Regions from separate parts of the Homo sapiens genome. Here region 2 is linked to region 1. The links come from fine-mapping of genetic effects on gene expression. Tissue or cell type: skeletal muscle. Region 1 holds a variant in brackets; the other region holds the start of a gene. All regions are shown on one strand. Distances are from middle to middle.

What was found. PIP is the estimated chance that this variant, and not a neighbour inherited with it, causes the effect.
Region 2: it holds the start of DPY19L4, and the variant in region 1 is fine-mapped to the expression of DPY19L4 in skeletal muscle (GTEx, PIP 0.96).

What each region holds. Positions count from the first base shown.
Region 1 is chr8:94,661,658-94,664,342 of GRCh38, reverse strand. ESRP1 (epithelial splicing regulatory protein 1) reads right to left here. Exons shown (of 16, transcript NM_017697.4): 5 at 1,973-2,071; 6 at 1,788-1,842. Among named protein-coding and RNA genes, the nearest start is that of ESRP1, 22 kb to the right of the region's middle. The variant C/G (reference allele first, on the strand shown) is at 1,641.
Region 2 is chr8:94,718,511-94,721,195 of GRCh38, reverse strand. It overlaps DPY19L4 (dpy-19 like 4), which reads right to left and starts at 1,296. Exons shown (of 19, transcript NM_181787.3): 1 at 1,182-1,296. The coding sequence starts at 1,197. RefSeq lists a silencer at 1,169-1,488 and an enhancer at 1,249-2,203.

The DNA.
Region 1 (2,685 bases):
CGACCAGCCTGGCCAACATGGTAAAACCCCGTCTCTACTAAAATTACAGAAATTAGCCGGGCATGGTGGTGTACGCTTATAATCCCAGTTACTTGGGAGGCCAAGGCAGGAAAATCACTTGAACCTGGGAGGTGGAGGCTGCAGTGAGCTGAGATTGTGCCACTGCACTCCAGCCTGGGCAATAGAGCAAGACTCCCTCTCAAAAAAAAAAAAAAAAAAAAAGCTGAGGAAATGTTTGCTTGGCACCCTCATGTCCTGAAAGTTCCTAGAACCCCAAAAGATAGGTTTGAATTCATTCTCAAATCTAGACAGTATACATGTGGGGTTTAAATCCAGTTTAGCAGCCGAATTTAGGATCAGAATAAAGCTGACAATTAACCCACATGAGGAATGTGTGTGCATGGTAGGAAGTCTGCCATTAAAATATCCCCCAGATCAAACCAGGGAGCCATCCCAGAGAATGTCCATAGAAATGCCTGTGAGTCCCTACACCTTAATGACTCATTTGCAAATCACTTATTATATATTTTGACACCTTTTGATGTCTTATCCCTCCCACGTTCACATTTTCAGTTCTCCTAGGACATTTTCTTAATAAGTCACTTTCTCCACAACTAATCGGCCTCAAAGTCTCTCTCTATGGGCAAAGCTGTCAGAAGTTTCTATTCACTTCAGAGACCAAGCACACACTCAATTCATTAGAGTGATTTACAAACAGGTCTACCTGCGATCACTAACAGACACCACTTCATACTTCTCCCCAGCTATTTCCTTGGCTTTAAAGTAGAAACCTATATAGCCAGGCACAATGGCTCACACCTGTAATCCCAGCACTTTGGGATGTCAAGGTGGGTAGATCACATGAGGCCAGGAGTTTGAGACCAGCCTGGTCAACACGGCAAAACCCCATCTCTACTAAAAATACAAAACTTAGCCAGGCATGATGGTACACATCTGTAATCCCAGCTACTGGGAAGGCTGAGGCACAAGAATCGCTTGAACCCGGGAGGCGGAGGTTGCAGTGAGCAGAGATCACACCGCGATATTCCAGCTGGGCAACAGAGCAAGTGTCTCAAAACTAAAATAAATAAATAAATAAATGTACTTATAGAATGTACGTAAAATTTTATCTCAGTAAAAATTGTGAACTCTATTAAAGCCTACAATTTCTCCTTTGGAAATTTTCTAAATGAAAGATCGGATAGTTTGGGGAGACCAAAATAACAATCACAGATATGAGCATATAATATACTTAAGGTCAGGGTGACTAAAGATGCCAGTAAGTCATTACATTTTATTCCCAATATCAAGCTCTAAGTAATACAACCTTCTTTTACAGATGACCGAACAGCAAGAAAGGATAGCTAAAAGGATTAGTAAAGTTTCTCAAATATAACAAGAATTAAGAGGCACAATATGAACAAAAACAAGTTAAAGGCCGGGCGAGGTGGCTCACGCCTGTAATCCCAGCACTTTGGGAGGCGAGGCGGGCAGATCACGAGGTCAGGAGATTGAGACCATCCTGGCTAATATGGTGAAACCCCATCTCTACTAAAACTACAAAAAAATTAGCCAGGTATGGTAGCGGGAGCCTGTAGTCCCAGCTACTCGGGAGGCTGAGGCAGGAGAATGGCATGAAC[C/G]CGGGAGGCGGAGCTTGCAGTGAGCTGAGATCGTGCCACTGCACTCCAGCCTGGGCGACAGAGCAAGACTCTGTCTCAAAAACAAACAAACAGACAAAAAAAAAAAACAAGTTAAAAAGCTCAAATAAATAGTACTCAAGCACTTACCAAGTTCCACTTTCAAACTTGTAATTCACTCTCTCTGGATCTGAAAACCTGTGATCTAAAAATGAGAACATAAAAGTCATCATTTTAGTGATTAGGGAGACAAAGTTGTAGGAGGAAATTTGAGTATAGGTAAGAGAAAAATAGTATGAATTCTGGGACTGCACTACTATAAAAGCAATACTTACTATAAGGCTCTGAAATCATTGCTAAAATTATATTCCCCATATCTTCAACTTGAGAGGCTCCATATCGAGAGACTGAACTACTCTTCTCAAAATTTAAATCTGTGAGATTAAATTAAGGAAACACTTTGGAAAGGTAAAATCAGGTTACTTCTAAATCAAAATTAAACCTATACCAAGCCAAGAGGAAGAAGATGGATCTAGCTGAGCTTCCTTTAGAAATCTCAGAATGGCTGCCTCCCATCAGTCAGTCATTCAACTTAGGCTCCAACTGCCCTTTTGGGTAAAAGAGGCAAATCAATCCAGTGCTGAGATATTACCAGGAATACAATTTTTATTTACCCAGTTGTAGCAAATGAATACTGAGCATTTTCATTTCATTTTGAATCAAAGTATGCAACAAAGTTAATTAGAATATTTCATCCTCTGAATCTTTACAGCACACACAAGGCAATGACCATGCCGACTTCATGATATGGTGACATTATCAACACTACAAGGTATTAAATGACTTTTTTTTTGGCCTAATGTTTGAAATGGACACCACAGATTATTGATGTGACATTACTTCCACAATGCCACTTTTGCTTAGAAATTCTATTATAGAACACTTTTGGAGCCCTGTAGGATAGTCCACCTTTGATGACAGCAGATGCTAGTTCTAGACAGCAAATTTTGGAAACAATTCAAGCACTCAGAGCCAACACAGGCCAATG
Region 2 (2,685 bases), 57 kb before region 1:
GGTGGGCGGATCACCTGAGGTCAGAAGTTCAAGACCAGCCTGACCAACATGGAGAAACCCCGTCTCTACTCAAAATATAACATTAACCGGGCGTGATGGCGCATGCCTGTAATCCCAGCTACTAGGGAGGCTGAGGCAGGAGAATCGCTTGAATCCAGGAAGCGGAGGTTGCGGTGAACCGAGATCGCGCCTTTGCACTCTAGACTGGGCAACAAGAACGAAACTCCGTTTCAAAAAAAAAAAAGGCAGGGGGGCTTGAGTCTAAATTAGATCGATTTACTATCACATCCACAGCTCCACTCATAAGGTAAAAAGTTGTGTTTTCCACCAGAATGCAAAAATCTAATTGCTTCTCACTTCCTGAAACTAGTAGGGGTTATCATGAAGTTACTATGCCATGAGTATTCCTTGTATTGTTTATCACTAACCGATAAGTTTCATCTAACTTCCCATTTTTGTCTCATACTTATCATTTTCTATAAATAAAATACTGCTGAATGAATTACTTATCTTAGCATTGATCCTGAAGGCGGCATGGAAACCTTTCTCCAGCTCACCCACTTTGACCCTCAAAGGCCTCCTGGCCTCATCATCTCCCAAAACTATAATAATTAGATGGCTCTGCTCTTTACCATTTTCCCCTGAACCTAAGTGAACTTGGCTTTCTTCAGTTTCTGCGTGTTCGCCCATTCCCAATTAATCTTGCCACGTTTATCCCAAATCCCTGCCTCTTTATCCCCGTGGTGAATGTTCCCTCGCCCCCTGTGCCTCTGGGTTTGTCAATATCCACAGCCCTTTAAAAATCGCATTCCAAATATGCACTGAGTACCTAAACCTGATCTTCGAAACCAAACTGCGCCTCCCACTTCACCAAGAATCTGATCAGGACCCTCCCTCTTTCCCAACCACTCCCGGCACAGCTTTCTCTCTTGCTACGGATTCCCAACTTTCAGCTCCACCTTTGCTTCCCAATTCGGCCGACAAAACTTCGGGCCATTTGCTCCGCTCTCCTGAATTTCTCCGCAGTCCTCTCCTGGGCGCCGCGCTCCTTCCCGCCCTGCCCGCGCGGCCGCCACCGCGACCGCGGCCACCAGCAGCTCCAACCCAGACCTCCAGCGCCCCCGCCCCTCCTTCCCGAGACCACTGGCAGCCGTTGGCGCGCTGGACCCCGCGGCAATCACCTTCTTCCTCCGCCATCGTTTCTGCGAAGGCTAGGGCGCCCTGCGGCTCCCGCGCGGCCCAGACTCTCCCTCCCTCCGCGTCGCCGAACCCCTCGGCCTCCGGGGGCCCGCTCCTGGCCGCCGCGCCCCCACTTCCTGACCCACCCCCCTCCGGTGTCGCCGCCAACCGCGTCCCCGCAGGCGGCCCGGGAACCAGAGTGTTGGGAGAGGGGAGCGGCCGGAGCGTTTCGCTGGGGCGCCGGGGCCTGCGCGGGCAGGAAGGAGACTCCACGCCGGGAGTGCAGCCCACAGCTGTAGCTCCTGGCCGCCGCCTGCCCTGGAAAGCGAGACTGGTGGGTCTCGCTGCAGCCCCGCCCCTCGTCCTACTCTTCCCAAAAAGTGAGGGCATGCTTTCCGCCACTTTTGTGACTCCGCGACTTAGCGAGTCAGAGACGATCATCAGCGACACCTCCCAGGTCCAGCCTCCATTCCCGCCCCATTTTACATGGAGGAAACTCAGATCTAATGTGGTGGAAGTCACAAAGCCGGTCAGAGGCAGAAGTGGAACCCGGTGCTCCAGAACTGCCATCGCTGCCTGCGTTCTCGCTGGGATTTCAGAGTGCAGCAGCAAAACGTTCTCAGTTGGCGCTTTGGTTTCGTAGGCCACTTGACCATTACAAGAAAGAAGCTTGTGCTTGGAACTTGTTTTAAATCACCAAAACTGGTTTAGCAAATATGTTGCATTTCATGATATTCTGGGGGGGGGGGCGGGGAGATAATACAATGGTCTGGGGTAGAGCAGTGTGCAATTAGATATTACAGAGCAATAGGGAATAATTTTAATTTGTTAAACTGTGTTTAACTTTCATTATATCTAGCATTCTTCAACAAACACCGGGATCTTTTCCCCAACAGTACTCAGAAGTAAATTTAGTAAATGAAATATACCCATTTTAGATCGGGAGAAACAGGCACGAGAATTCACTGAAGTCATGGGGTAATTATGGACACCCCATTATTAGCAGGCAGCAAGATTCTCCTAATAGCACCTTTAAGTTAGGATATTTGGGGAGAGGCTATCATTTTTCAGTGATGTGCAGAAACGGTTCCAGGAACTTTTTTTTTTTTTTTTTGAGACAGAGTCTCGCTCTGTCGCCCAGGCTGGAATGCAATGACTCGATCTAGGTTCACTGCAACCTCCGCCTCCCAGGTTAAAGCGATTTTCGTGCCTCGGCCTTCCCAGTAGCTGGGACTACAGGCGCAAGCCACCACTTAATTTTCATATTTTTAGTAGAGATGGGATTTCACCATGTTGGTTGGCCAGGCTAGTCTCCAACTCCTGGCCTCAAGTGATCCGCCCACCTTGGCCCCCCGAAGTGCTGGGTTTACAGGTGCCCACCACCACGCCCGGATAATTTTTTGTACTTTTAGTAGAGAAGTGGAGGGGTGTGGTTTCACCATGTTGCCCAGGCTGGTCTTGAAATCCTGACCTCAAGTGATCCACCGGCCTCAGCCCCACAAAGTG